3 linked regions of the Homo sapiens genome follow. The protein of the gene in region 2 interacts with the protein of the main gene of each other region in a biochemical or structural test. Each region holds a gene or a part of one and is shown on either strand. Other genes may lie near its edges. The genes, in order: INPP5D, SLAMF1 and SH2D1B.

Region 1 (11,190 bases), on a different chromosome or scaffold from region 2:
GCATTTGCACAAAAACAATTAACAGTGTCTATTTTACTGAAGCTTCGAAAGGGAGACTTAGCCACCCGCTCACACCACAGCTTTCCAACTCTGTTGGACTCTCTGAGATTAGGAGTTTCGCCCTCCCAAGTCCCTTCTCTGCGGCTCCATCACGAGAAGTTCCCTCTCCAGGCTCTGCCCCGCCCCACACAGGCCACCTTATGGTCTCTGTTTCTCGCTTCCAGGAAGATCATGCATGCAATCCTGGCCCTTTTATTTGTTAGTCCTGTAAACTAGGCCTGTTCCATAAACCGCTCTGCACCTCGGTTTCCCCATCTGTAAAGTGGAGATAATAAGACCTCCTTTGAAGGTCTTCGTGGACATCAAATGAGTCAATATAAGCCTAGAATGGTGCCTGGCACAGAGCTCTTTGGAAGTTGCCTGCTGTTATTAGGCGGAGCAGGTTGGTAACAACCTTCTGCTGGTGAAGCCAGGTCTGTCCGGTGCACTGTCTACACTGCCCCTGGGAAGGGGTAAGCAAGACCCTGCCATGGTGCCTGGGTGGCCTGTGGAAGGCCACATGTGGAGGGAAACCAAAACCACACTGTCAGCTGTGGCCAGACCAGGCACTGGGTTCTGAGCCAAAGGCAGCCACGTGCCTTCGCCTCCCCCATGAGGGAAGCCCCCTCTCTCTGGAGTGGTTGGCTGGGAACGCCGCCCTCCTGCGCAACTCCAGGCTGGATGGCAGACAGCTGAGCCGGCCACTCTAGGCCTGATCCCGGGCCCCAGCTGCTCCTGCAGAGAGGGCAGCCTATATACTGACATTGGGCCTTTGATCAGCTTTGCCTGTGCAGATTGCACAAGGGGATGCCGGCTCGGCCAACCCATGGACCCTTGCATTGACTGACCCCATTCCCAAGGCATCTCTTCTTTGCAGCATAAGGCCCTGCCAGGTGTGCTGGCCCCTGCGTGGCAGGAGAGGGCATGAGCCTGACAGCTCTTAATGTCTCCCACCCACGATGTACCCAACGTCCCCTGGAGGCACCCACAGACTCCCCCCGGAGCAGGGCCAACTCTGCCGGGGGATTTGAGTGGGGACCAGGTGGGGACAACATAGGCTCTACTTAGAAGAGCCCCTGGCTGAAAGACGGCAGAGTTGGACCCAAACCAGGCAGCCACCTGCTGGAGTCTTCCCACTGCAACTGTCTGTGCCCCGAGATGGAGCCCAGGCTCCCTGTCAAGCAGGGCTTTCCAAGCTGCTGAGGTGAGATCAAAGCTTTCCTGCCCAGTGGTAGGTGACGGGGCTGACCTCTCTCGAGGAAATGCAGGGTTTGCTGGGTGTGCGCAGAATGTGCACTCCTAAGTCACATGGGTGGCACTGAACTGTAGCCCTGTCTTTTGATGTCCAACCCCCGCTCAAGTCCATTTACATAGTCAAATCCTGTTCTCTTTCCTGAGCACAAAGGCCCCTCCCTGGTGAGGCTGCTCTCAGTTCCTGAGACTCCAGGCACACTTGCCCAAACCATCAGGTGGAGACTCCGGCCGTTGTCCCCTTGCCCACCAGAGGGGGCCTGGGAGGGAGTGCTGCTGGGGCCCAGGCAGGATGAGGTCAGGGCACCTGGGTGATCTGAGGGGCCATGGGGCAGGTATACTTTTCCCATGGACTTTGCTAGGGCAGGAGGGTGAGTGTGTGGCTTCCTTCTGCAGTCACTTCTAGAGCAGGGTGGCTCCAGGCTTCCAGGGCTAGGGGGGCAAAGCCTGCTACTTCTGCAGCCGCAGAAAACCCGGCTGCCCTGCACACCCCTCAGCCTGGGACTGTCTGCCTCTGCCGTCTCCGTCAGGCCACGGCGACTCTGCAGGGAACACAGAAAACTAAGGGTGGTAGGGTTTGTTTTTCAAGAAGTTCAATCTCTTTGCTTTAAATGACTGGCTTTTTTTTTTTTAATGCCCTTCCTGCCTCTTTTGGTGTCAAAGGCTGCTTTCTTTCAAGAAATGAGGTGTTGGAAGATGACAGTTTGTTATCATTCATTTAATTAGTTTTTAGTTTTAAAATCTCCGTAATTGGCAAAATCCAGGGTGGCAGCCATATGAAGCCTGCAGATGTATGGAAAGTCTGCAGGTCCATAGCAACCCACGGCCTACAGTGGAGCCTGACCCTGCAGGAAGGGAAGCTTCCCACCCTGAGCAGAGGAGAAAGGGAAACACTGAGCCCAGGGTTTGTCTGGCCAAGGGGTGGGACTCCTGGTGTTTGCAGCCCAGCAGCCTCAGGATAGGAGGCTGACGAGGCTTCGGCTGAGAGGATAGTGGACATCTGTAGGCACCACAGGTCCCTCTCTAAGGAGCAGACACTGCACACCCATCATGACTCTGAGAGAACTCAGTGCAGACAAGGGTTCAGAGAGAAGAGGTAGAGGAAGGAATACGAGAACTGGCCTGGATCCCAGCAGTTTTGACCCCAGCCAGCATGGTGGACAAAGGCCTCAGGCTCTCTGCCCTCTGTCTACCTCCTGAAAAGCCAGGGCTGTTGCACCAGAGCTTCTCCAAGGCCTCTCCAGCTCTGACTCTGGCTCAGGCTAATCCTAGACGTTAAGATGCTCACGGCTCGGAGTCAGAGAGACCCACGCCCCATGTCTGTAACCTGAGCAACCACAAAGCAAGCCCTGGTCAAAGGGCTGTGTTGAAGGTTAATGAGATGGGGCCCTGGAAGCCCTCGGCTCAGCCAACACCAAACAGCCAGGACAAGATCCCACTGGGCCAGGAGAGAAATCCAAGTAACCCACATGGGCCAGGTGGAGTCAGACTGGGCTTGTGAGAGGCCTAAGAGAATCTTCCTGCTCCTTCTAAGGCCCCGGCAGCAGCAGGTCCCCACTGGGGAAGTCCAGGCAGCCTGGGCCTGCGTTCCTTCCCCTGAGGCATGAGAGAGGGGACACAGGAAACCAGTCTTTGGAGGTGGGGCTGCAGACTGTCAGCACAGGCCAGCGACCAGCTGCGAGCCTGGCTTGGTTTCCAGTGCCCCAGCTGACCCTGTAAACACTGTGGCTCCCCTTGCTTCTTTCTCCAGCCCTGCAAGGCTACATGCCTGCCCCGCTGGACTGGGAGCAGGAGAGGTTGGGCCACAGGCTGCTGGTCTCAGCTGCAGCCTCTGGGGGCAGATGGCCGTGGCTTTGACTGTTGTCACTCACTTAACCTGCCAGGGCCTCAGATTTCTCATCTGCAAAGTGGGGCTTTTAACAGGACCTTCACTTTAGGTTGTGGTGAGGATGAAATGGGCTAACAAATGCTTAGCACGACAGGTCCCAGCTGTGAGTCAGTATTCAAAACAGGTCTGGGTTCATCACCCAATTCCCCTCCTGCCTGGAGAAGCACAAGGCCCTGGCTGCTCGGGGGAACATTTCTGCCAGCCCAGGGATGCTACTTGAGATGTTCAGGTGGACACACATTTCCCTGACTACACTCCGGCACTGCCTGAGGCCCCGGCAAAATGATTAGACCAAGAGCTGCAGGGCAAGGCCCCCCTATGATTAGACCGAGAGCTGCAGGGCAAGGGCCTCCTTCAGACGCTGGACAGGAAGGGGGTTTTAGAAAGGAACCTTCAGCAAGTGGCTGGTTCCTCCATTGTTAGCACAGCTGGTACATTCAGTAACATCCCCAACCGGGCAGTGGGAGGAGTTGATGGTGACAGAGACCCAAATTGAGGGGGTGGGGGGTGGGCAGCGGTCACAGCCAAGTGCTCAGGAGAGAGAAGAGGCTGCTCGCTGGTGGTAATGGTGACTTCCTCTGCTCTCAGGCCCCTGAAAGCAGCTTCTGACTGAATGGAAAGTCCTTTCTTGATTAAACTCACCCCATATTCTTGGCTCGCCAAACAACAGCTTCCTCCAGGGGCCCGAAGCCTGGGTGCTCCAGGAAGGGTCCCCCTTGCCACCTTTGCTCTTCTCAGGGTTTCTGAGCTGGGCATCTTTGAGCTGATCTCTAACACACCCACCTCCACAGAGCCCTGAGCTTCCTCCTGGCTCCAAAAGCCCAAACTCCCTTCTCTCGGTCCCCAGACTCCAAGGAAGCCACAAGGTCCATACAGCTCATGGGAAGCTGGGGTGTAACATCAGGCCTCAGAGTGGTTCTGACAGCTCCAAGGCTGCAAAACCTGCCATGAGACCAGCTCTCTGAACTCCAAGGACAAGGTCCATGACAGGGTGGCGGGGAAGTGTGCATGTCAGATCACTCTGTCCTGTGACATAAGAACAACCCATCTCAAAGCTGGGCCCCCTCTAAGCCCCTCTGTCATATCTGTGCCCGGGGAGGGAGCAGGTTGTACTCACAGCACGCAGAGCGCGTATGCCCGGGAGATGGACTCGCTGGCACGCACGAGGAAGCTCCCGTCCTTGCCTGTCCTGGAAAGCAGCTCCTCCGCCTTGGAGCGGGTGATGTTGCCATGGTTCCAGCAGGGGACCATGGTGGGCGTGGGCCTCCTCGGCCGGGCCGGCAGGCACCCCCAGGACCCACACACCACCGAGGGGAGCGGAGGCCCCTCCACTGCAACCTGCCGCCCGTTGCCTCTTGGTGGCCTCGGCTGCTGCCACCAGCTTAACTGACTGACTTCCTGTTTCAGGCGCTCAGTGAGGGAAAGGAAACTGAGCTGCGGAGAACTTCCTCATTACAGAAACCAAGCAAGAGAGAGAGAGAGAAAGAGAGAGAGGGGGGGGCCCTGGCCGTCCACCGTCCCCTACACCCTGCCACGGCTGCCGCGGCTCTCTTGCCAGCCCTCTCCTTCCTGGCAACTGGTCGCAGCGTACAATTGAAGTGTCCAGTGGCAGCTGAAGTCCCCCTGGGTGGAATGACCGGCTCTGGAGACGTCAGGAGAGTTGTGGCCACTTCTGAAGAAGCATGGCCTAGCAGGCATGGGTGGGCCAGAGAAGTGGTTCTTCTGCGGCCGTGCTGACACCCACGTGGGATGCCATGCCCTAGACAGGCCCCCGAGCCTTCTGCTCTCCCTCAGGGCTTTTCAGCACCCACCCTGAACCTCCAAAACACCCAAGGGGGCACAGCTTCTCAACTGGGACTACGGCCTGCCCAGGACAGAGCAAACTTGAGGGGGAGGGGACAGTCGAGCCCCACCCCTCCCCTTTAGAGACTCCCAGCGGCCTGGGTGCTGGGAGACCTTGGCTGCCACCAGCCGAGGGCGCCAAGGTCCAAGTGATGGCTCTGTGACCCCATTACCCTCATTCCCAGGGGCGGGTGGGTGCTGCACGGGCAGCACAGCTCTGATCCCTGCAGTCCAGCTTGGAGACACACAAAGGGAGCTTGGAGGGGATGTGGGCCGTTTACAGCGGGAACATAGGCTGGGTTTTTCCCTGGGCTTCTCCAGGATGCTGGGGAAACAAGCTCGGAGAGGAGAACCCCAAAGCCCCACAGGGCAGGCTGGCCGCCTGGCCAAGGACAACACTGGGTGCTGAGTCCTGCGTCTCAGCAGTCGGGGTGGCCGGTCGGACTGCACCGCCTCCAAGACTGGGCATGGCCACATATGCCCACCACTCAAAGAGGAGCTGCCTCTCCAGGGACCGCCATCCAGGACCAGTCATTTCTGAGGGCTCTGCGGTGGACACCCATCCCTCAGCCCCCAGACCTGGGCACCTTCCGTCCTTGGGTCCGGCCCACCAAGGCCGAAGGGGCACGTGTTGACCCGCTGCACAAAGAGTGCCCCCACCATCCCACATCCAGGCCTTGGCCTCCAGGACATGACAACAGACTCCCTCCAGGAAGGGGCACCAGCCAGGCAGCGCCACCACATTCAAGCTGTGGGAACCTGGTCAAGTTTCTTCTCTCTCTCGGCCTTGGTTTCTTCTTGTCTAACTTGAAGGACGTAGCTCGTAAAAGAGCTCACATGTGCCCAGGGGCTCAACATGTGTCACACTGATGGTTGTCCCAGAACAGGGCCCCCAGCACCTCCCCGCTGAGCAACACACATGGCAGGCGAGTCTGTAGGGCAGACAAAGCACTCCCAGTCAAGGACCTCTGGCCAGGCTGGGAGCCAGGCGTGGGGATAGAGTGGTGATGGGAACTGGCCTCCATGCTCCGGCCCTTCCGCAGCACGCCACCTCTGCAGCAGCCCAGTGTGGAGGCCTCTCATTCCCCACCCACGCCTCCACTCAGCACCTGTCCACCCCCTCCTTATGGGGTCATCTCCTATGCTCCCATTGTGTACCTTCACACCCTTCTCACTTCCCTGCTGGCCTCCACCAACATCCATGAAGTCCTGGACCACGCCACCAGGAGGATCCATTTGCAATACTGGTCCCTTTACACCTCCACCCACTCATCTCTAGAGACCCCTACCATGCCAAGACTGCCCTACTTAGAGAGCTTCCCCCAAACCCCCAGCCCCCCACCTCTCACACCTCTATTCCCACGGTCCTTGCCATTCCACAGAGTGAGATCCCCTGGCACACACGCCACACGGGCACTCTTCCCTCATTTTTAAGGCCCATCCCAACTTTGCTTCCTTTTCCACCCAATTGCCTGATCTATCCAGCATGGTCAGCTGGCTTGTCCCCCACCCTTCTGCCCTCCACATTCAGGAAATCCCAGTATCTAGATCAGAGCTGCCCTTTTGGTGGGTGGATTTTTTTTTTTTGTAGGTCTCCAGTCAATATAAATAATTTTAACGTATTACAAAATTCACAAACTCATGTGAGGGATAGTGATTTATCAATGAAGACTTCAAATAATGGCTAGAGAGTGGCCAGGCACAGTGGCTAACACCTGTAATCCCAGCACTTTGGGAGGCTGAGGGGAGTGGATCACCTGAGGTCAGGAGTTTGAGACCAGCCTGGCCAACATGGTGAAACCCTGTCTCTACTAAAAAAAAAAAAAAAAAAAATCAGGTGGGTGTGGTACGTGCCTATAATCGCAGCTACAGCTACTTTGGAGGCTGAGCAGGATAATCACTTGAACCCAGGAGGCGAAGATTGCAGTGAGTCGAGATCGTGCCACTGCACTCCAGCCTGGGTGATAGAGCGACACAGTAAAAAAAAAAAAAAATTACTGTTCCAAATTTTATAGCATAAAGGTAGAACCACACATCTTCCAGCCATATTCTCTTGAATGTGTTAGGCCATAATCACTGCATTCCTACCTTGAGATCCCATTTGATGATGATTGCACCCTGGCCCTCCACATACAAGAGCAGTCTCACTCTCCAGGGATGTCTGCCTGCATCTGGCTTGGCAGGATCAATGTGGAGAGCTCAGCATCACCACATGGATGGGAGGTGGGAGATGATGCTGATGGGAAGAGCCCGTGGGTGTATCGGTGCTGTGGAGCAATGTCCTCGAAAGACGTTGGAGGAGGCAGCTGCCTGATAGTGGACAGGAGCCTCCAGAAGGGATAAGGGACTGCCAGCTGCTGCTGGCAGGGGTGATGAGGGCCTAGACCACCTGCCACTATCCTTGCTGTCCTCAATGCTCGGGGCCACTCAAAGGAGAAACCTGCTCCCCAGGCTGTGCCCAGGAGTCACACCCAGCCATAGGGCCCCAGAGCGATTGCATAGTGTGAGTCTATGCATTCCTTGGAGCATCTGGTCAACCTCACCCATGGGGCAGAGGCTTGGAAAGCAGCTGAGGGGAAGAAGTGGGGTCAGACTCACTCATGTGATCCTGGGTCCAGACTGGGGCACCTGCCCAAAGGCACTGCCAGCCCTGGCAAGCCCCAGGCCCCATCAGGGGACTTGAACAATTTCTGGGAAAGCTGGGCAGTGAGAAGCATCAGGGTGGTCTGGCAGGCACCTGGTCATGGGCACTCAGCCAACTCTAGAAGCTCCGGGAAGAACAGACAGGCCTCAGTGTTGAAGAGGAGGGCTGACATGGCAGGGCCAAGGCATTGGAGCAATTCTGCTTTGGCAACCTTAAGTGAGGGCGGGTCACAGGAAGGTTTGAGTCTCAGGACAGGGTCAGGGCAGGCTGGGAGAGAGGGACAATGGAGACACCAAGCTTCTTGTCCAGGGGTCCTTCCACCGTGGACAAGAAACAGAAAGAATTTCAGGGTCTGAGAAGGGACTGAGCCAGGAGAGGGGAGGCAGAGGTCAATATATACTGTATATATATATGTGTGTGTGTGTGTGTATATATATATATATATATACACACATACACACACACATTACATCATATATATAGTGTGTATATATATACACACACATTATATATATATAATATATATTTACTATACAATGTTAACAGATATACAATATATCTAAGCATTTGTCTCTGTACTTCCCTTCCCCTCCTGTGTTCATCGAAGCCCTTTACTATGCCCCAGGGCTCCCACTCCCCCCAGCCTGGGTGGATAGATAGATATCACTCATGGCTTGGGGTGCAGGGGCTGAAAGTGTTCACTCACTGAGTGCTAAAAGCAAAGGGAGCAGTGATGGTTAATTTTATGTCAACTTGGCTGGGCCTCAGGACCCAGATATTTGGTCAACATTATTCTGGATGTCTCTCTGAAAGTATTTTTTAGATGACATGAACATTTAAATCAGTAGACTTTGAGTAAAGCAATTCCTGTGTGTAGGCCTCATCCAATAAGCTGAAGGTCTTAATAGAAAAAGACTGACTTCCTCCAAAGAGTAAATTTGCCAGTAGATTGCCTATGGACTCGAGCCGCAGCATCAACTCTTCCCGGGGTCTCCAGCCTGCCAGCCCACTCTACAGACTTTGCACTTGCCAGCCTTGACCATCCTATGAGCCAATTCCATATCTATCTATCTATCTATCTATCTATCTATCTATCTATCTATCTATCTATCCATACATCTGTGTATCTCTCTAGCCATCCACCTATCTATCCACCTATCTAGCCATCTATCTATCTATCCATCTATTTATCTATCTAGCCATCTATCTAGCCATCCATCTATCTATCCATCTAGCCACTATCTATCTAGTCATCTATGTATCTAGCCATCCATCTATCTATCCAGCCATTTATCTAGCTATCTAGCTAACCATCCATCCATCTATCTATCTAGCCATCTACCTATCCATCTATCTAGTCACTATCTATCTAGCCATCTATCTATCTATCTGGCCATCCATCTGTCTAGCCATCTGTCTAACTATTACCTATCTATCTATTGATCTATAAATCTATCGATCTGCCTATCTATTTAGTCATCTATCTATCTAGTCATCTATTTATCCATATATCTATCTAGCCATCTGTCTATGTATCTAGCCATCTGTCTGTCTATCTATCTAGCCATCTATCTATTTAGCCATCTATCTATCTATCTATCTATCCATCCATCTATGTAGCTATCCATCCATCTATCTAGCCATCTATCTATCCATCCATGTAGCCATCCATCTATCTATTTAGCCATCTATCTATCTATCTAGCCATCTATCTCCCTATCTATCTAGCCATCTATCTCCCTATCTATCTAATCTATCTACTTATCTATCTGCTTCTCTGAAGAACCCTGATTAATAGAAGGGCAAATACTTGACCGTGAAGTTAGAAAGTTGCTCACTGGCTGGCGTAATCAATAGTGAACTTCCCTCATCTTCAGACCTGATAATAAGACATCCTTTGCTGGAGAAGGGAGCAGCCACTCACAGGGAGCCTCCTGGGATCAAGCACCACTGTTCCCCTCCCAAGGAGCCCAGGGCAGGTGGGTCAGCCCCCAGGCTCCTGCTTCCTGCCACTGAGGAAGACCAGCCGGGAAAACCAGTCAAAAGCAGGAGCCAGCACCTTATTCACAGTTTGTTAAGAAGGATGGATGCTCTCCTGTGTCCTGAGAATCTACCCTGCCCACATCGGCCCCTCTCAAATCAAAGGCCAAGGTCGCTTACTGAGATGGTGGAAGAGGAAGTCAAGTCCCAGCCCCTGACTAGGATGAAGGGAGACCGTCCCACTGGAGACGTCTGGCAGAGCTGGAGCACTCCCAAACTAGCAGATTATGATCCCTTATTGTCTGCCAGAAAAGAATTTCTTCCCTCCCAGCTCTCTCTCTCCCCACCCAGCCTTCTCTCTCTCTCTCTCTCTCTCTCTCTCTCTCTCTCTCTCTCTCTCTCTCTTCTCTCTCTCTCTCTGTCCATCCCTCTCTCTCCACAGTTGTTTTTGGAGCTCTGTCAAGATACCAGGCTCCACCAGCCTGCCTTTCCTTTTCCAGTTCCATTTCTGCTACCGGCATCTTGACGTTTCCAGATCCACCCAGGCCCCTGCAGGCACAAATTTCATTCAGATTTGCAGAGCTAGTGGCCACAGTCCTCTGAATTCCTGACAGATTTTGCCAGAGACCATCCATCTATGTGGCCCCACGGCTTCCTGGGGCTTGGTGCATCCCCAACAATGGGAAGGCAACATCTCAAATCATGGCACCCTCCACCCCTTCCCTGTTCTGCTCCTCTGATAAGCTCCATTTTAGTGCTGCAAATCAGACTCTGAATTAGACACACAGGAACAAGGCTGGGATCCAAATCTCAGCTTTACCATGACTATGTAGCATCTCTGGATTGGTTTGCATCTCTGTAAAGGGATAGTGACACCCTGTTGAAGAATGTCTGTGAAATTATGTAATGTGTCTGGCACCAGGTAGGTCCTCACGATGAGGCGGGTCTCCCAGGCGGCCCCCTGACCAGCTCCTGAAGGGCAGAGCTTCGGTGGGCTCCTGGGGGCTCCAGCGGGCAGCTGGCATCAGTGACCTTCGCCACCGGTTTAACCCAATTCTAGAAGAGAACTCTTTACCTGCGACTACAAAGAACCTGAACGGGTCCGGGTCTGCGCCTTGTGACTCCCGGCCACCAGGTGGCGCTGCACTCTGGCCTCCCCCTGGGACCAGAGCCGGGAACATCGCTGACAGGCACAGGGGCGATCCCCAAGGAGTCCAAGGGCCCATGGAGTCCATAATTGTGCTAAAGGACATCTGTGAATACCGAAGGCCTGGCAGCGAGCATCTCCTGTTTCACTGAAGATGCCGGAAAATCAAATGAGCTTGAAAGAAAACAAGGAGAATTAGGATTGACTTTGGGAAGAATTGGGTAAGAGGAAACCATGTCCAAAAAGCCAACATATGTCTCTTGTCAAGATTCTTAAGGACAGAGGGAAATATTCGTAATACAACGTTTAGTGAAAAAACAAATCAAGGCCGGGTGCAGTGTCTCACACCTGTAATCCCAGGACTTTGGGAGGCCAAGGTGAACAGATCTCCAGAAGTCA
Region 2 (10,448 bases):
ACAGTTCTCCATGTGGAGGGTGGTTCCTGACCTTTGGTGAAGGGGATGCCAAGCTAACCCTTGTCCACCTCCAGGAAAGGGACAACCTCACATCCTATCTGATCAAATCTGCCTCCTTCAGCATTTCATAACTATGGCATGGAGACATAAGGCCAGGAAACACATCATGCCATATTACTGTGTTATAAATCCTTTAGGAAACACAAGACAAAATTGCAATTTCCTTGATGGACTGGCTGTAATTTATTCATTTCCAAAAAGTAGAAACATAAACTTCAGAAGAAGAATCAATTCACAGTGGCTTCTCAGCCAGCACACACCACCCGCTGTAACAATCACATCCCCGCTGTGTGAATGGAGGAAGCGTCCTGAAGAGCCTGGGACTGTGCCCAGTTGTACTTCAGAACATCAGTCCCTTCAAACCGAGAATGGGTGTGTTCCTCCTGACTTCTCTAGAATTCAGACATGCTTGGTCAAAAGAAAACAGCATTAGAGGGGAAACACGGGGAAAACTTATTGTTTTAAGTCTGAGGAAAAGGCAAGCTCCCGCTCCCCATAGTGCCATTTGGGGGAAACTAGAGAGTTGTGAATGTATCACCAGAAGGGGTTGTTTTACCACGTGTAACCATGGTCTAGGGTGAGAGGCATAATGCCAGTGCTGTTTGGTGGGTGGCCCAAAAGACTCCCTCCCCAGTGAGGTCTTGAGCCCAGGGGTGCAGGATACTTGGAAGTGATAGCCTCTTCTTCACCCTTTGTTTCTGCCCTTCCTTCAGGTAGAATTCAGCTACTGGAAAAATCCAAGTGCTGGGAACTGAGCTTCTAGAGCAATCTGAGTTGTAGTAAAGGAATGGGTGCTCATAAGCCCGGGTTTACAAATCTTCATTAGTAGCTCCACAGTTTTGAGAGTAGACAGTGAATGAGGGTAAGGTTATACAAGGGTGGCGTAGTGGATAATTGTGAGGCTTTTTTGTCTGCCTACCACCTGAATCCCACTTCTATTATTTGTAGAATTCCTTAATTCATAAGAAGTGAAAGTGGAAAATGCCAGATATTCAATTCCCAGCCCCCCTTGGAGATAGGACATGGACATGTGACCTAGGATTGGCCACTCAATCCCAGACTTTGAATTATAAGCTAGAGATGAAAGGATGAAGAAGGGACCCTGGAGAATTCATTTTCATGGCAGACAGTGCAGCAGTAACAGTAATATCAAGTTTCCAAGTCCAGCAGAGACAGTGAGGCAGTGGTAGAGTCTGTGCCTAGTGCTGGGGACAGTGGCTGTGCATGAACAGGATCATCATCCCTGGGCTGGTTTTGTAATTTTGGCTGTGCTCCCAGCCACAGCCTAGTCTCTTCTTTTCCTGCTCACTTTCAAAGCATGGTTTTGCAGAAACTTCTAGCAGTTATTGGAACCAATCAGTATCTTTTCAATAGGTTCCTTTTCTACATAAAAAAGCCAAAGCCAGCTTCTGTTGATTGCAACTAAGAACTCTATTAAAGAAGCTGGTACCAGGAAACGAGATGCACTAAGCAACAGGCTTACAATGTGAATTGACCTCATAGAGGAGGTAAGATACAAGGCAATAAGGACCTGAGTTTTGAGCTGGGAAGTTGGTGCTCCTTATTATGCAATGGTATGATAGTGGCTGTTTCTTACAGTACTTACCAAGTTTATATAAGAAACAATAAGAAAAAGCAGGGCTTAAATTGAGGACAGCCTGTCTAAAAGCAGAGAATAGGAAAAAACAAAGGACTTTACTTAAAAAGTCTCTTTCTGCCTGCAGCTTGCAAAATAAGTTATTGAGCATTCAAAGATTTGAAGCTGTTAGACCAAAATAACTTAATTTTCTACTAGAGGATAAATTTAGTGTGAGGAGAGGTATGCAGGGAGTAGAAAGTGCCTAGGAAAGACCTTGACCTGCAATACCCCTTGAAGCCCTGGATATAAGAGGTTCAGAATCTGGTCACAGAGAGTCTTAGCTGAGGTTCCAGGTTTGTTGTTCAAGGGAATCAACAGAGAACTGGGATTTAAACATCATTTTGAGAAGTGAAAAATCACCATGGGACAAGTTCCTCTGAGTATTCCAAGCTCCTTTGTAACAGCACCATCAAACATTTGCTACGTTTTTCTTTAAAACTGAATGCCATTTGCACAGAACTGTACTTTTAAGGCTCTTACATGGTTTCCAGTCCACTGTTCAAAACTCAGAGATCTCAAAATCATTCTTTCTGTTTATTGACTTTTTAGCTTCTGGGTTTTGCAAATAAAATAATATTCTTAGCTTCCTTTATACAATAATATCAGAGTGTTTTATGTATAATAAGAAATTCACCCTTCAGCCTCTATTCACTCTTTATCCTGAGAGAGAAACTGAGGCACAGAGGCTTGATCAGGTCTGCAGGTTATCATGATCAGCTCCCAGAACAAAGTAAAGATAGCCAAAATGTAAACTTTTCCAGACTTTGTGACTGGTGGTCCAGTGTGTGAGATAGGTACTCAGATGTCCTGGCTTTCAGTCTGATTTTTATTATCCAGTTCCAGCCAAGAGCAAGATGCCCAAAGTCTGAACTCACATTACTGTCCATTTCATCTGCTACAACACAAAGATGGAACGCTGTTATCAAGTAACGCTCTGTTCTGCGCCTGCAGCCACTGCACAGCAAGCTAAATTCTTGGGAAGCCTCACTTCCTTGTTCATTTCACAGATGTATGTGGAAGAAACATCACCAGGGAGTTGATCTGAGAAGGGTACAGACGTGCAGCATGTCTGCCAGAGGAAACTTGGGGCCTGTGGCCAAGTTCAGTGTTCATTTTGGTTTTTCCATTTTCCTTCAGAAAGTCCCTTTGTTGGTCTCTGGTGTCAGCTCTCTGGAAGTGTCACACTAGCATAGACTGTGATGGAATTTGTTTCCTGGGGACAAAGCAGAAGTCTGTGAGTAGAGGGACTGGATACTCACTTCACAGAATGCAAATGAAAACAGCACTGCTGAGGAAAAGGAAAGGGTCTTAGAGATCATGGCTTGTGCAGGGTCTGTCACAGACAGGGCCTTGCTGGGACAGCACTTGGGTTCCCACACTGCTTCTCCACCTGCAACAAGGGCCACAGCTCCCTTCCAAGCATAAGCATGCTATTATGGGGAGCATGATCTGAGGACCAGCACTCAGTGCCCTGTCTCCCTCTTTGCCCTCTCCCCTTCCATCCCCTTGTAAGGAAAACCATTTGTTTTGCTGTTACATATGGGTCACAATCTGGGAAGCCAAGAGAGTTGTAAATTATTGAGTTTTTAAAAAGTCTAGTGGGACTCAAAGGGAGAAGAGAAAAGTGGTATTGGCAGGAGAGAGGAAGGGGAGAAGAGGGTTATGCGCAAAGATCTCTCATGTCAAAGAAACAAAGAAAATAGAATTTAAGGGTTTTGCCATAAAATGTTAACTATAGCATACTGTTTTTGTCCTTAAGTAAACTTCATTAAAAATCTATGTATTTTTTTGAAGCTTTGAAGTCAGGTTTATATTTTTACTTCCTTCTTAGATATGACAGTGAAGTGAGAATGGACCTCAAGTTGAAGATTGGTTTCATCTTGAAATATAGGGCACCTGCCCAGGCATTTCTGGATGAGTGTGTGTGCGGTAGGAGCTTTGAAAAATAAGGTGGATGCAGGCATTTGTGTGACCTTTGTGCCTCTATCATCCTGGGCTCTCTTCTGAAAGAGCCCAAATGGAGCAAAGATTTCAGCCCAGAATTTATTTCTATTCATTCAGTAAAGGAAAGATTCCTGTCCGAAGTAAACTTAGTCCCTGCTGATCTTGCAATAGGGTAGAATATGCAAGTATCATTTTGAGCTGCACCCCATATTCTCTTCTAGGCTTAACACCTATGCAGATCTCCACCCCTAAATATTCTGATTAAATGGGGCTGCACAGAGTCTAGGCATGAGCATTTTTACAATGCTTCCCTGGTGATTCTGTTTTGTAGCTGGAGTTGAGAACTCCTGGACTCCAGCTGCTGTTCTTAAACTTGAGTGTGTATCAGAATTACCTGGGGTGTGGGTTTTTTAAATACGTAGGTCTATGGCTACTCTCCATAGACATTTTCATTTAACAGAATCCTAGGTGGAAGTCCCTAGGAATCTTTATTTTTAACAAGTACGCTGGCTGATTCTGATGTGGTCCTTGGACAACTCTCAGGGAAACACTGGCCAGCAGGGGGTTAGCAGTGGCCCCGTGTGAGCAGGTATTGGGGGCTTCATGGAAACTGGAAAACCAAAGCCACAGAGACTCCTTTTTGCCTGCATGCTGTGGCCTCCCTTCCCCAGTCCAGGACTCATCAATCTGTTTCATTTAATTTGTTTTTGTTTTAATTTTTTTTTTTTTACTTTTATTTTAAGTTCAGGCGTACATGTGCTGGTTTGTTACATAGGTAAACTTGTGTCATGAGGATTTGTTATACACAGTATTTTGTCACCTAGGTATGAAGCCTAGTGCCCAATAGCTATTTTCCCTGATCCTCTCCCTCTTCCCACCTTAAAAAAAAAAAACTTCCTCATTTTCCCCTCCTTCATGTATTCCCTCTCTACGGAGAGTAGGCAGAGAGATGCCTCACCTGGACAGACTCTGGGACAGGCTCTGTGGCAGCAACATATATGGTGGTGCAAGGGTCCTGAGCTGGGAAGGAGTCAAGTTTCTTCTGAAGAGGCTACAAGAGAAGCAAAGAAAGCAGATTAGCTGAACAGAGAGAGCTAGTTCTCACCCAACTCTCCGATAGAGAAGCACAGACTCAAGAAGACTTGAGGCAGAAAGTTCCTTCCAGTCATTTGGTCCAACCTCCTTCTCAGGTGGGAATTCTCCCCCAAATTCTCTGGAACTCAATTCCCCAGGCTTTGCTTGGACTCCCCAAGTGGCGTCTTGGGGTGCACAACCTCCCAAGGCAGCCTCATCCATTGTCAGTGCTTCTCAAATGTTTTAAATGTCTTCCTCACAAGAAACTGAAATTGGTGTGGCTCTTACAGGGGCAGCTGGAGGGGACAGAATAGCAACAGAATTTAGTCCGTCTCACTCATATCACCGGCTACATGCAGAATTCTTGCATCCCACACTGCCATTCCTACTCTTCCTCCTCCTCACATATGTCTTCTCATTTGCCTCACAACCACTCTGTGTTAAATACTGTTGTTACTCACACTTCACCGATGATGAAGCTACAGCTCAGAAAGACCAAATGTTTTCCTAATGTGTACAAGCAAGAAGTGTCAAAGCCGGGAGTCCCCTGCCTTAAGCTCTTTTAACTTAAGGTGCATGTCCTTTCTATCACTATTCTTTTTTGGTCACTCAACTTATAATGACCTATCCCTTACTTAAATTCCTCAGGTATTTAAAGTCTAATTTACACTTTATGGCACTCTATGCTATATTTAAAACATTCTGATATATTTATGTGTTGTTTCTCCAGTCTATACATTCCTTGAGAAATAAGCCATATATTTTTGTACTCCCCACAGAACAGTATTGGACACATAAAAATAAACTCTTCAGCTGATATTTGTTGATGTTACTTTGAACGAATTAAAATCCACAATTCCTGGACAAAGACCTCAAAATAAATTGAGACCACATCCTTGTAAGATGCGGATGCCATCACTTACAATAGGGAAGTCATTAATTCAACACATTTTGGGGACACTGGTTATGGGATAATGCTGCTGTCCACTCTCCCTGGGTATAGAGCCAGACTTGAAGCCACACCACATGTGTTTTAATGCGAGAAAACTTGGAATTTTGTCATGTGATGGAAGGGTTAAGGAATTAGGAAAGTTTATTGGAGGAAAAAGGGATGGGACATAATTTTTCTCTTCATATATTTGATGAATTGCCATATAGAAAAGGAATTCAATTTGCCTATAAAGTATCTCAGGTTTAAACCAAGATTAGGATTTGGGGAAAATATTTTGATTCAATATAATGAAGATCTTTCTAATGGTAAAAGATGTTCAAATGTGGGATGAATTGCCTTGGCAGGCAATGAGCTCCTATAGTTATAAGTGCTTGGGCATGGTCTAGACCAGTGCTGCTGACTTTTATTATGCATATGAATTACTTGGGGATCTTGTTAAAGGGTTGATTCTATTTCGGAAGATCTGGAGCAGGGCCTGATTCTGCATTTCTAATAAAGTCCCAGGTGATGCTGATGCTGCTTGTTCACAAACTATATTTCAGTAAAAAGGAGCTAGGCAACACTTTGGAAGTAATGTTGTAGCAGATAATTCAAGCAGTAATTGGGTGGTTCAGATAGATGGCTTTCAAGATCCCATACAATTCTTAAATACATTTTGAAGAAATTTTGAGTTTAAGAAAGAATTTCTTGCAGTGATGAGATAAAGAGGCTATCAAAACAGTTTATTAAGAGACCTTTGGCCGGGCGTGGTGGCTCACGCCTGTAATCCCAGCACTTTGGGAGGCTGAGGTGGGTGGATCACGAGGTCAGGAGATCGAGACCATCCTGGCCAACATAGTGAAACCCCATCTCTACTAAAAATACAAAAATTAGCCAGGAATGATGGTGCATGCCCGTAATCCCAGCTACTCAGGAGGCGGAGGCAGGAGAATCCCTTGAACCAGGGAGCTGGAGGTTGCAGTGAGCTGAGATGGCGCCACAGCACTCTAGCCTGGCGACAGAGTGAGACTCCGCATCACCAAAAAAAAAAAAAAAAGAAGAGAGACCTTTATCAACAGATGCAACCTCTGCTGGTCTTCCTGTTTGGGAGAACTTTAGCATAACCTGACCTAGAGGCAGAAGGAGGCAAATAACTTACATTTTTAACATTAATTCAGAAGTTTTAGAAAGGAGAAAAATATGTAAAAGAAGTCACCCATAGTCCTATTAAGACTCTGTGTGTGCTTAAATGTTCACTTCAGGATTTTTATCCAGGCATAGGGAATTATTTTAAACATAAATATAATAAGTTAGTATATTTTTGTATCTTATTATCTTCTGTTAGGACCACTGATTTGTACATCTTTAGGGAGCATCATTTACAAGCAACTCCAGAGGCATTATTTTCACATAATTTTTGTGAATGGTGGCCGCTGGAATTAATTCTGCAAGATACTAGCTCTGATAAGTCCTAGAAGAGTTCCTAGCACACAGTAAACACTTGTTTAGTGATTTTCATGTTATTATATTCTTTATAAGATTATTTTATAGCCATTAAAAATAAGAATAAAGGCATTGTTAGTTTTTAAATAATTGTCTACATTATTACAGTCTTTATATTGATATAATAAAGACATCGCAAATATGAACAAAGAAAATTGTGAAAATGTGGGTAAGTCTAAGTATATATTTATATATATAAAACAATAATAATTATGTCTTGTGTGTTTAAAATATATATGAAATTCAAATAATGACAAAACGGTCACTTAAATCAAGAGGTGAAATTATTGTGGACTTGAAGTATTATGCAGGAGGGAAGTAAACCTTAGACTTTGGTAAGTCAAAGTTGTATTTTATAATTTCTAGGGTAGCCACTAAAAAGACTGAAAAAAGTTGTTCACTAATATGTAGAGGAGAAAATTTAATAATAAAAATATAACTTAAAAAAATTTCCACCAAAGAAACCCCAGTCTCAGATAGCTTTACTAGCAATTTGCTCTACTAGCAAATATTTAAGGGGAGAAATAAGACATCCTACCCAAATATCGCAGAGAATAACAAAAAGGAAATGCACCCTGTGGTGGGTTGAACTGTGGCCCCAAAAGATATGTCCAGGCAGAATGTCAAAATGTGACTTTATTTGAATAAAGGTCTTCACAGATGTCAAGATAAGGATTTCAAAATAAGGTCATCCTGGATTAGAATAAGTCCGAAGTCTGATGATGACTGTCCTTATAAGAGATGGAAAAGAAGAAGACACAGAGAGGGAGGTCATGTGAAGATGAAGGCAAAAATTGCAGATACACAACTACAAGCCAACAAATGCCACGGAGAGCCTGGAGCCACCAGATGCTGGAAGAGGCAAAGAGGATTTTCTCCTAAAGCCTCCAGATGGAGTGTGGCCCTGAGGATGTGCCTCCTTGATTTTGGACTTCTGACCTCCAGAACTGTTAGAGAATAAATTTCTGTTGTTTTAAGCCACCAAGTTTCCAGTAATTTGTTAAGGCATCCCTAGGAAACTAACATATACCCCAACTCCTTATGTGAATTAGCATAAATCTTTATATCAAAACCCCACTGGTTGGGCATGACTACCCAGGTCCCTTCCAGTTCTTAAAGTCTGAATTTTTAACAGGAGAGCGACCAACTTTACCGTGATGTGGGTATTAGGTAGAGTAGCTGTGTGTCATTTTGGGATCAATCTGAGGCTTGTGATTAAAGAAGAGTCCAGGAAGAACTCTGTTACTTATTTTTTTAAGGACATTTGAAATATTTCTACCTCAACTTGTATCCCAGTTAGATATATTCACAAGAATGCTATATACCAGCCACTGCAGTGCCTTCTTAAAAAAAAAAAGGCATTATACAAGAGAATTACAGGCCAATTTCACTCAGAAACATAAGTGGAAAACCAAACTCTTAACAAAATATTAGCAAATAAAATCCAGTAATGCTTAAAAAGGACTAGACTAAATTGGTCTACAACAAAATTAAGACCTTCTCTTTATCAGTAGGTATCTCTGAGAAATTCCAAAGGCAAGCTACAGATGGGTGAAGGTATTTGCTAACATATCTGCCAAAGGGCACATATCCAAAATATATGAAAAGCATATACTAGTCCATAAAAGAAAGACTAAACCTCAAAGGGAAATGGGCAAGAGATTAAATGGGCACTTTAAGAAAGAATTTTAATATGGCCAATAAACATATGAAAAGTTGTTCAACTTCCTTAATAATTACAGAGATGTGGAATAAAAGCATAATAAGACACATCCAACAGTAGGACTAAAATTAGACTGTTAATACCAAGTTTTCATTAGAATGCATAGCAATTGAGGCCAGGAGTGGTGGCTCATGCCTGTAATCCCAGCACTTTGGGATGCTGAGGCGGGCAGATCTCCTGAGATCAGGAGTTCGAGACCACCCTGGCCAACATGGTGAAATACTGTCTCTACTAAAAATACAACAATGAGCCAGGTGTGGTGGTGCGTACCTGTAATCCCAGCTGCTTGGGAGGCCGAGACAGGAGAATGGCTTGAACCCAGGAGGCGGAGGTTGCAGTAAGACAAGATCACGCCACTGCACCCCAGCCTAGGCAACAGAGTGAAACTCTGTCTCAAAAAAAAATTTAAAAAAAAAAGGCATAGCAATTGAGACTCTCATATGTAGCTGATAGAAAAGTAAATGGATACGCCCACTTTGAAAAACAGCTCGGCCTTATCTAGTCAATTTGGAGGTATGCATACTCTACGATTCAGCAGTTCTACTTCCAGGTATATCTAGGTATATACCCAAAAAAATATGTGCACATGTCCACTTAACGACTTGCATATGAATGTTCACAGCTGCAACTTTCATAATAGCCTCAAACTGGAAATAACCCACATGTCCATCAATAGTCAACTGGATAAATAAACTCTAGTATATTCATACGTTTATATTCTATGAAGCAATGAAAAAGAATGCATTATATCTAAATTCAAAGACATATATGAATCTCATAAAGATAATACTGAGCAAAATAAATCAGACATGAGAGAAAAAAGAATAAAGAATTCAATTTTTATAAAGTTCAAAAATAAAAAAGGAAAAAGCTAACCTATTTTTCTAGAAGTCAGGATAGTGGTTATCTTTGGGGAGGAGAGAGGAAGTAATGATTGGGAAGTGGCACAGGAGGCCTTCAGGAAGTACGGGCAATGTTCTAGTCTTTGATCTGAGTGGTAGTTTTATGGTATTAGAAGACTCAATACTGAGGCCAGGCACAGTGGCTCACATCTGTAATCCCAGCACTTTGGGAGGCTGAGGTGGGCAGATCACTTGAGGTTAGTAGTTTGAGACCAGCCTGGCCAACATGGTGAAACCCCATCTCTACTAAAGATACAAAAATTAGCTGGGTGTGGTGGCAGGTGCCTGTAATCTCAGCTACTTGGAAGGCTGAGGCAGGAGAATCACTTGAACCCAGGAGGCGGAGGTTGTAGTGAGCCCAGATCACACCACTGCACTCCAGCCTGGGCGATAAAGCAAGACTCTGTCAAAAAACAAAAAACAAAAAACAAAAAACACGCAACACTGAAAAATGTAATTTCTCCTCATATAGATCTGTAGACTCAATACAATTCTAATATTTTTTTTTCTTTTTGTGGTACTTGATAAGTTGATTCTAAAATACATATGAAAGTATAAAGGAACAAGAATAGCCAAAAACTTTTGCAGAAAAACAAATTAGGAAGACTTGCTTTACCAAATATCGAGATATGTGTTTAAGGGTAACTCACTGAGCTGACATTAATGTGTTGT
Region 3 (10,898 bases), 1.8 Mb from region 2:
TGGGCACAGTGACTCATGCCTGTAATCCCGGCACTTTGGGAGGCTGAGTCGGGCAGATTGCTCGAGGTCAGGAGTTCAAGACCAGCCTGGCCTGCACGGTGAAACCCCCATCTCTACTAAAAATACAAAATTAGCCAGGCGAGGTGGCATATGCCTGTAATCCCAGCTACTCGGGAGTCTGAGGTGGGAGAATCGCTTGAGCACAGGAGGTGGAGGTTGCAGTGAGCCAAGATTGTGCCACTGCACTCCAGCCTGGGTAACACAGCAAGACCCTGTCTCAAAAAAAGAAAGCTGCTAGTTCAATGTAAGAGGAGATCAACAAGTAGTAGAAGGTCAACATTATTGTGGAAACATTCAGTAGATTCCAATATAAACTGGATAGTGTGGGTGTCAACATCCACACTGGAAACATCCAATATTATTATTGGATGTTATTATTATTTTCCATAACTGTATTAGTTATTGAAACTGTATTAGTTATTGAAACTATATTAGTTATTCAAAATAATAGCTTGATGTTAAATTAACAAGAGCATACTTGTGACATGCAGGTAAACATCTGAGCTATTTAAGTGGATGTTTGATGTTATAAAACTCATTGTGTGCTCATCTACACAATGTTTGATGTTATAAAACATCTACACAATATTAGTAGATGAGTAATTATATTCAAAATATCAATGAAGATAACATTTGAACTAATAAAAAATTCAATTGCATATGCCAGGGTACTTGTTAGGATCTTTTCACTGCAAAAAAAAAAAAAAATGCCCGTATTCAAATAGTTTGAAGAGTGAGGAAATTTATTCTCCCATCCAATTGGAAGTCAAGAAGAGGAATGGTCTTCTAGGTCAGTTGTTAAAGCCGCCCAGTGCCATTTTCAAGGACGTAGATTCTTTCTCTCTCTCTGCCTTTCCTTTCTCGGCAGACCGGCTGGCCCTCGGGCTGACACTCTTGTGGCTCCAGAATGATTGCCAAAGGTCAAGGCCTCCCATGCAGACATATCACCATCCAGACAAAACAGGGGCCATCTTGTGTGGAATCTTTCAGATATGAACAATAATAGAAAACCAAGCCCTAACTACGTGCCAGCTGCATTATGTATATAATCCTCTCAGCAACTCTATATGGTCATTATAATGATCGTCTCCATTTTCTGAAAAACAAAGGCACAAAAAGCTAGGCAGTTTGCATTCATCACTGAGTAGCGAAATTGGAATTCAAATCCAGGCAGTCTGGTGGTGATATGGTTTGGATCTATGTCCCCACCAAATCTCATATTGAATTGTAATCCCCATTGTTGGAGGTGGGGCCTGGTGGGAGGTGATTGGATCATGAGGGCAGAGTTCTTATGAATGGGTTAGCACCATCCCTTCGGTGCTGTTCTTGTGATAGTGAGTGAGTTATTGTGAGATCTGGTTGTATAAAAGTGTGTGACACCTCCCCCTTCTCAGTCCTGCTCCCTCTTTGCCTTCCACCATGAGTAAAAGCTCTCTGAGCCGTCCCCAAAAGCAGATGCTTCCATGCTTCCTGCATAACCAGTGGACTGTGAGCCAATTCAACTTCTTTATGAATTACCCAGTCTCAGGTGTTTCTTTGTAGCAGTGCAAGAATGAACAGGTGGCAAGGCCTCTTGCTGAAGCCCCCACACCACACTGCCTCTCACATAGGCGGTTCTGCCCTTAGAGTCATGGAGATTCCAAGAATATTGGGGTCCCACTATAAAGTATGTTCAATGAATGATGGTGATGCAATGAGTTAGCTCTTTAAGGAGATAGACAAAGTGCTATCTCCTACGATAAGACAGTAGGAATGAAGTGGGAGGTCCTACACTGTTGCCCTCCATCAGGCATCTTTTAACAAGCACAACACAAGCATTTGCCATGCTGCTGTGGTCAGTGATGATCTTGTGATCTTGGGCTTTCTGGGGTTGACACCACACTGTCCAGTTTCTACGTGACTTTTCACTCAGAACAACACTGTGATTCACATTTGGCCTCATGCTTCCTTGGTCTTGAGAACAGAATTTTATCTGTAAGGCTGGATTTATTTGACATCTTTAGTAGAAAATAACAAAAACAAATGCCAACTAGCTTATGACAAAAGGGAAATCTATTAAAATGACAAAAAAACTCAAGGGCAAGCATGTAGCCAGACCTCAGAAATCACTGAATCCTGGAATGAAAACCCATGGAAAATCCAAGTGAGACTATCTTTTGACTCTGCTTTTTTTCATGTGTCCACTTCATTCCTCATTTTGCAGACCAGTTCTCTTCTCCTGACAGCTTGCTGGGATATGGCCACCAGTATACAGTGTAAAAATGTACCTGTTACACAGCCATTCCTAGAGAATTAATTTCCATTCCCATTTCCTACCCATCCCAGCCCCCTACCCTCTTTCTTTCTTTCTCTTTCTTTCTTTCTTTCTTTCTTTTTCTTTCTTTCTCTCTCTTTCTTCTTTCTTTCTCTCTTTCTTTCCTTCCCTTTCTCTCTTTCTTTTCTTTTTCTTTCTTTCTCTTTCTCTTCTTTCTTTCTTTCTCTTTCTTCCTTCCTTCCTTCCTTCCTTCCTTCCTTCCTTCCTTCCTTCCTTTCATCTCTCTCTCTTTTTCTCTCTCATTTCCTTCATTTCCCCATTTTCTCTAAACTCCTGGATAAGGGTTTGTGATTAACTTATCTTAGGTCGGAGGCCTATCCTTGATCAAATCACCCATGGCCAGAAGAATAGGGTCATGTTCTACAAACATAGTGCTAGGTTTTTGTTTCTGTGGATGAGAGAAAGGGGACCCACGCAAGAAATTGAAGATATTCCTGTGTACTGTGGAGCTATTCTTAAAGGTGACATGGGATCAGAATAATATGGGAATGGAAAGATATTTTTACTATTAAAACTTTACAACACATGCAAAAAGAGACATTAATATAATGAACCACACACACAATCACCCAGTATCAGACATAACACTTCAATACGTATCTCTAAAAGTTATATTCACAAAAGCATAATGCCATTGCTACACGCACTATCTAATATCAAATCAATACTTAAATTTCCCCCAGCACTAAATTTTTGGTATTTGGTTTTTTCAAGCCAAGATCCAAACAAGATGTCATCTAGCATTGGTTTCATGCTGCATAACCATCTTTTTAACCTAGAGCAGTTCTCACCCAACTATCTGACTCAGTTTTTACAACCTATGAAGACACCACATTATTTGTTCTACTGAATGTCCCATACACTGGATTCCAAGAGCTTAAAGCTTTTCTCCAAGGAGCTAGGACAAAGGGCTACATCTATATTTGGGCAAGGTTGATCTTTTACTGGATAATATAAATTCAACGTATTTTGATCAACCACAATCATTATTCCTTTGATACTTAAATTTTTCCATATTGGGTCTTATGTCCTTTGACATGACTCAGTCTTCACTGACACACTTATATGTCCCTGGCATGAATTCAGCCATTTCTCTAAAAAGTTCTTGCTTCTTTTATAGGAGAAGTGGTATTTAGAGACCATAGCCTTATCCCTAGGTGTGCTCATTGCTACCAAGTTTTCATTGTTTTAGCTAGGGATTGGCAAACTACAGCCCATAGTGCTGCTTTTACACTACAATGGCAGAGATGAATGGTTGCAACAGAGACTATTGCCTGCAATGCCTAAGAAAAAGTTTGCTGGCCCCTGTTTTAGGCCTTTTGTTGAAAAGCAAGTTGTAAATCCATGCTGATATTTCCAATTCAAATTTAGCATCAAAAATTTTATTTAACTTCTTTGCTTTTATATGTGTATCTCTTTTCTTATACTGAAAAAAAATCTTGATTCTAGAATTTTCCCAGGACTCATCTGTCTTTAACACTGAAAGTCGTAGATACTGGGAAACCCCTCAGACATAAGCAAACTGGTACAGTTGTTTACCTTACTTAGTTCTTAAAATGTTAATATCAGTATGATTTTTGTTTATCTTATAATATGAGTTAAATATATTTAAATTACACCAAATTATCACTAAATTTATTTGCTAGTTTATTTAATGTACAAGATATTTAATTAAAACTGTTCACTCAAATTCTACATTCTAAAGTCAGTTGAAATAATTTTCTTTATGATTATATTACCAAAGTAATGTTCAGTTAGATACATTATTTTAGTTTTTATTCCTCCTTTTAGGAATACCCTTTTACTTGTTTATTTTCAATGTGTAAAACAATTATGGCCGGGCGCTGTGGCTCACGCCTGTAATCCCAGCACTTTGGGAGGCCGAGGTGGGTGGATCACGAGGTCAGGAGATTGGGACCATCCTGACTAACATGGTGAAACCCCGTCTCTACTAAAAATACAAAAAATTAGCTGGGCGTGGTGGCAGGGGCCTGTAGTCCCAGCTATTCGGGAGGCTGAGGCAAGAGAATGGCATGAACCCAGGAGGCAGAGCTTGCAGTGAGCCGAGATCGCACCACTGCACTCCAGCCTGAGCGACAGAGTGAGACTCTGTCTCAAAACAAAACAAAACAAAACAAAAAAACAATTACATGATTCTACATTCAAAACTCCACAGCAGGCTGGGCGCAGTGGGTCACATCTGTAATCCCAGCACTTTGGGAGGCCGAGGCAGGCAGATCACTTGAAGTGAGGAGTTTGAGACCAGCCTGGGCCACATGGTGAAACCCTGTCTCTACTAAAAATACAAAAATTAGCTAGTCATGGTGGCACGTGCCTGTAGTCCCAGCTACTTGGGAGGCTGATGTGGGAGAATTGCTTGAACCAGGGAGGCAGAGGTTGCAGTAAGCCGAGATCACACCACTGCACTCCAGACTGGGTAACAGAGTGAGATTCTGTCTCAAAACAAAACAAAACAAAAAACCAACAACTCTACAGCAAGTTTTACTGAGAGAAGTCTCACCTCTATGCATGTTTCCGCTCTCCTCTTAGAGGCAGAAGTTTTTAGTTTTAATTAGTTTTAGTTTTGTTCTTCCAGTGGGTGTTTCGTTTGTTTTTTAAATATGAGCAAATATTATAAATGTATATATTTATTTATATCCCCCATACTCTATATACTATTGTGCATCTTGCTGCTTTCACCTAAAAATACATCCTGAAGATTATTGCATATCAGCATATAGAGATCTTCCTCAATCCCATTTTATTATTCTATAGTAATATTCCATTGTATACATGAATCACAGTTTATTCACCTGTCCCTCTATTCACAAGTCTTTGAGTTGTTTGTAATCTTTTTCTATTAAAAAATACTACCTTATTCACAAGTCATTTTCTAATTCTGCCTGTGTAGTTTTGTGACAGATTTCTAGAACTGAGATTGTTCTATCAGATGGTGAAGGCATACATAAATTTGCAAGATATTGCCAAACCATCTTTTACTATAGTTGTAACTATTTTTTATTCCAACTAATGATATACAAGATATTCTATTTTCTTTCACCATGACCAACCCAATAAGCTTTCAAACTTTTGATTTTCACCCATATGATAGGTGAGAGTTGTTATCTCAGCATGCAGGTAATTTGCATTTCTTTTATTGTGAGGGTTGGATTTTGAAACAGCAAAAAGGGCAAGGAAGCCCCTGTGATGACCAAGAGCCTGAGCATGCTTTCAGTTATTTCCTCTCTTATGTCAAAAAGCATCTTTACACCACGATTGTGAATTTATTCACAAGAAATACCAAATTTCTTCTTTCATTATTAACAACTCTGTCTTCAACTGCCATAGTTTCCAGAGAATTGAATAATGAATTGTCCAAAACCACAGAAGAAAAGTTGCTATTTGAGAGCATATCTGTCTGATAACGAGTTCCCTGATCAGTGAAACTGCACTATGCCAAATGCAGAGTGGGAATTCCAAGGAAGAACAAAGATCTGTTACAAGGAAGTTCCATAGAAGATACACCCAACTGTGAGTAAACAGCTGGTAAGCAAAGTAGCAAGGTGAAATAAACATCTAGGTTAAGAAGAAGTTAAGATCTCCAGGTACTACGGAGATGAAGAAAACAAAAAAAAGAAGAAGTTAAGAGAAGTAAAGATGAATCGTTAGCACATAGTTCTATTTTCATAGATAACATTTTTGAGATATATATAGTGATTTTCTGTAGATATATGAGTATACCCAGATATCCCTCCCACCTACACCAGCCCTTTCTCCAAAAGGAACAATGCTTGAGGGTGTTCAAATGGCCTTTTTTCACCAGTGGCTGGGAGCCTTAGCCATGGAATGGGCTGTCCTCATCCACAGTGTCCCACTGTTTTTTATTGCCATTAATGTCTTCCATTTTTAGTGTCATTTGATCCACGGAAATCCCACCCTTTCAATTTTCCCATTGTATCTGAGCATATCAATTCTCTCAGCATCCAAATGGTTTTTGAGCACCCAGTCTAAGCTAAGCATAGCCCAATCCTAGGCAACTTCAGCAGAAAATGGGTACCATTACAGCAAAAGCAGCGGTGTGCTTCCTGGAAAGGATACCAGTAGCCAAAGAAGTTGATGATAGTCCATGGTAATATACAAGGCTGCAACACAGTTCCAGGAAGCTTGACTTCAGCATTGCCTCCCTAGCCATGAGCATCACTGATTCCATTGTGTGTTTAAATGTGCTTTACCTACTTCTGTGAGTCACATGTGGGCCATTTAGAGGGTGAAAAGTGTTGGTCATTTTATCACCCCGCCCTCCTCATTTCCTGAATCTTGTGAAGCTGGCTGAGTCCCACAGACCGCTAGAGGAAGAGGTAGCTCCACAGGAGGTACAGCTGCTTACACATCTCTCCTCAGAGCTGTCCCTTGACTTGGGGGTGAATTTCAGGCCAACAGGGCTTCCTGGGATACAAGAGCGTTCTCCATGGATCTGCCTTACTACCATGGACGTCTGACCAAGCAAGACTGTGAGACCTTGCTGCTCAAGGAAGGGGTGGATGGCAACTTTCTTTTAAGAGACAGCGAGTCGATACCAGGAGTCCTGTGCCTCTGTGTCTCGTGAGTAGCCTCATCTTGCACACATCTGACATCGTATGTTGAATGTGGCAATGGCTGCCACACAGTACAGGAATTCATATCCCTCAGTATTTCACTCTGACTTTGGAGTCTCAATGAGTAGAATGAGAAGTAATGGACACTGCCAGGAGAGGAATGTATCTGTCCATGCTCCTCCATCTGCCTGCTCTCCCTGGTGTAAAGGCCCTGCAAGCAGACTCTGCAGCAGCAGGAGGGACATGGTGGTGGTGAAGGGAAGGGCTGCAGGAAGTACAGGGGTACAGAGGGATGGAAAGAAGGTACAAATGTCAGAGGTCCTGTCCTCCAGAGATCTGTTTATTTGGTATGGAAAAGGCTAGGGGTTCTTCAAGAAATTTCAATCTGAAACACTTATTCTGCAGCATCTGCTTGCAATACGTAAACTATAAATACAATCATATTTCACATTTTGTTAGATTTGTGAAGGACTTCAATATTCGTCATTTCCTTTCATCCTAGTAGTCTATCAAGGCAAGCATAAGCAGTCACCATTTCATAGGTAAAGAAACAGAGACCTGAATTTCTCAAATAATTTGTTTGTGTTAAAACTCATTTGGAATTTCCAGAGTCTAAGTTAAACATGAAATTCCAGGCTGGGCATGGTGGCTCATGCCTGTAATCCCAACACTTTGGGAGGCTGAGGCAGGTGAATCACTTGAGGTCAGGAGTTTGAGACCAGCCTGGCCAACACGGCAAAACCCCATCTCTACCAAAAATACAAAAATTAACCTGGTGTGGTGGCGTGTGCCTGTAATACTGGCTACTTGAGAGGCTGAGACAGGAGAATCACTTGAACCCAGGAGGCAGAGGCTGCAGTGAGCTGAGATTGCACCACTGCACTCCAGCCTGGGCAATAGAGTGAGACTCTGTCCAAAAAAAAGAAAAAAGAGTGGCTGGGCACAGTGGCTCACTCCTGTAATCCCAGCACTTTGGGAAGCGGAGGCAGGTGAATCACCTGAGGTCGGGAGTTCGAGACCAGCCTGACCAACACGAAGAAACCCCGTCTCTACTAAAAATACAAAATTAGCCAGGTGTGGTGGCGTATGCTTGTAATCCCAGCTATTTGGGAGGCTGAGGCAGGAGAATCACTTGAACCCGGGTGGTGGAGGTTGCAGTGAGCTGAGATTGTGCCATTGCACTCCAGCCTGGGCAACAAGAGCAAAACTCCATCTCAAAAAAAAAAAAAAAAAGAAAAAGAAAAACAAATTCCAGGCCACAGTATCAAAGAGACCTAGCTGAAGGAACTTGTTTATGCCCAGTTTAGAAAGCAATCCTGAACAGAAATCACTAGAAACCTCCTATCTTTATGTATGTTCCTCTTTGTAAAGTAGGGACCACTGAACCTTTTATTATACCTGTAACAGAAATTAAAATCCAAATGTCTCTTGTTAAAGAAAAAAATTACTCAATGTCACTTGTTAAATTATGGTTGGGAAGACTTTATTCAGGATCATCACAAAGGTACAGGGACCACTGCAATGAGCTCTTGCGGCACAGAAAAGAGACTGGACTCAACTCTGAATCCAGCATGGACAAGTGGGAATTTATGGCCAAGGAGCAGTGTGGCTGTCGGTAGACAGAAAATTACTCGGAGGAAACATCAGGGGTAAAGTGGATTCTGGCTAAACCAGCCTAACAGAATTGTAGCTGAAGACAGGCCCGGGTGATCAGATGTTGCCTGGGGGATGGTGGAGGATGAGGAATCTGATCAGAATCCAACAGTGATCAGATAGCTAGGGTGAGGGGTCCTTGCCAAACTGACTTAGTAGGGTTCTTTGCTAAAACTGGATTTTACAAGGAAGTACACAAATGGGCCTTGGAATAGGCTCAGAAGTCTGATTATAGACAAAAGTGATTGTCATTACTAATAGAATACACAGGGACATATTTCTTTCTTTAAATGGTACTGGAGATACAGGCTATTTCTCTCATATCTACATCCAACAGTACCATTTAAAGAAAAATATATATTGGCCAGGCGCGGTGGCTCATGCCTGTAATCCTAGCAATTTGGGAGGCTGAGGTGGGCTGATCACTGAGGTCAGGAGTTCAAGACCAGCCTGGCCAACATAATGAAACCCCCATCTACTAAAAATACAAAAATTAGCCAGGCATGGTGGGTGCAGTTGTATCCCAGCTACTTGGGAGGCTGAGGCATGAGAATCGCTTGAACCCAGGAGGCAGAGGTTGCAGTGAGCCGAGATCGCGCCATTATACTCCAGCCTGAGAGACAGAGAAAGACTCTCCATCTCAAATAAAATAAACAAAGAGTGGAAAAGATCTGCTTACATGTAAATGGGATGGAGGGCATTTTAGGAAGGGGAGGAGGTAGGAACAGGAGTCTAGAAGTGGGATATTTTAAAGGATTTACATACAAGGTTCCTAAAATGTAGTTTGGAAACCAGCTTTTGGAAAAGGAGGGTGGGATAAGATCATGGAGTTTTAAAAGAATGGTTCTATAGATAACAGGGAAACATGGATGGTTTCTGAGCAGGGAAGTGAAAAGACTGGTGAATTTAGGAACTTCAATTTGACGTGGAGAACACAATGAAGCTGGGAAATGATGGCAACAGAAACTGTTGTGTCTCTGGACGGGAGACGGTGAAGAGCTAGTTGTGCTGGGGCAAGCAGTGGGAAGGGAAAAAACAAGAAGGTGCAAGGACAGACCTTGGCCAGGATCTCAGGGTATATGGTCAATATGGGATTCTCTTCCTTCCTTTCTTTCTTTTTTTTTTTTTTAGACAGGGTCTCACTCCAGCTCCTAGGCTGGAGTGCAGTGGTGCGATCATGGCTCACTGCAACCTCAACCTTCTGGGTTCAAGAGATTCTCCTGTCTCAGGCCCCCTGAGTATCTGGGACTACAGGTGCGCACTACCATGCCTGGTTAATGTTTAAATTTTTTGTAGACATGGGGTCTCGCTATGTTGCCCAGGCTGATTTCGAGCTCCTGGGCTCCAGTGATCCACCCACCTCAGCCTCCCAAAGTGCTGGGATTACAGGCATGAGCCACTGCACCCAGCCTATATTGGGATTCTCTTTGAAAATTGATATTTATTCTCAACTGTTCTGTGGTGCATCAGCCCATCTTGCATATTCATCTAAAGCAAAGGTCACTAAGAGATGCTAAAAAATGGGCCAGGCGTGGTGGCTCACACCTGTATTCCCAGCACTCTGGGAGGCCGAGGCGGGCAGATCACTAGGTCAAGAGATTGAGACCATCCTGGCCAACATGGTGAAACTCTGTCTCTACTAAAAATACAAAACTAATTAGCTGGGTGTGGTGGCATGCGCCTGTAGTCCCAGCTACTCAGGAGGCTGAGGCAGGAGAATTGCTTGAACCCAGGAGGCGGAGGTTGCAGTGAGCCAAGATCGCACCACTGCACTCCAGCCGGGTTACAGAGCGAGACTTGATCTCAAAAAAAAAAAAAAAAAGAAGAGAAAAAAAGAGAAGCTAAAAAATGAAAATAAACCAAGTGGAGAGGCAAAAATAAATATTTGTTAAGCCCCTGCACATGATCAGGTCTCACCCACCTCCCTACACATGTCACTGAAAGGCAAACAACATTTCATTCACCCTCAGGCTTAAGGCTTAGGTCAAGTGACCCCTGAAGCTATCTCCTCATAGGGCCTTGTAAAAATGTATTATCATACAGATAAGTATGGACTATTAAATTCTAGTTGTTCAACAAATATTTGAATTCTCTCATATGTCAGACAGTGTGCTAGACACTCGGTTGATGCCTTCAACACAACTCAGAGCCTAGTGGGGAAAATAAAGAAGTAAACAGACACAGTGATGCATGTGATAATTATGATGATTGGACTATCATTAGGGCACTGTAGAGCTGACAGCAAAAAGGGGAGAACCAGATATTGGAGCTGAGAC

Evidence for each region.
Region 1: the proteins of SLAMF1 (region 2) and INPP5D form a complex in vitro, tested with the Homo sapiens proteins (one study listed by BioGRID).
Region 3: the proteins of SLAMF1 (region 2) and SH2D1B interact in a test that uses a peptide from one of them, tested with the Homo sapiens proteins (2 studies listed by BioGRID).

Annotation. Positions count from the first base shown.
Region 1 is NC_000002.12:233,053,718-233,064,907, reverse strand, and holds the start of INPP5D (phosphatidylinositol 3,4,5-trisphosphate 5-phosphatase 1), read right to left. Parts: upstream 4,567-11,190; 5' UTR 4,430-4,566; coding exon 4,296-4,429; intron 1-4,295. UniProt on the Homo sapiens protein: Phosphatidylinositol (PtdIns) phosphatase that specifically hydrolyzes the 5-phosphate of phosphatidylinositol-3,4,5-trisphosphate (PtdIns(3,4,5)P3) to produce PtdIns(3,4)P2, thereby negatively regulating the PI3K (phosphoinositide 3-kinase) pathways.
Region 2 is NC_000001.11:160,607,887-160,618,334, forward strand, and holds the end of SLAMF1 (signaling lymphocytic activation molecule isoform b precursor), read right to left. Parts: intron 4,695-10,448; coding exon 4,602-4,694; exon of another isoform or gene 4,601-4,601; intron 2,913-4,600; coding exon 2,862-2,912; 3' UTR 220-2,861; downstream 1-219.
Region 3 is NC_000001.11:162,407,961-162,418,858, reverse strand, and holds the start of SH2D1B (SH2 domain-containing protein 1B), read left to right. Parts: upstream 1-6,722; 5' UTR 6,723-6,842; coding exon 6,843-6,976; intron 6,977-10,898. UniProt on the Homo sapiens protein: Cytoplasmic adapter regulating receptors of the signaling lymphocytic activation molecule (SLAM) family such as CD84, SLAMF1, LY9 and CD244. In SLAM signaling seems to cooperate with SH2D1A/SAP.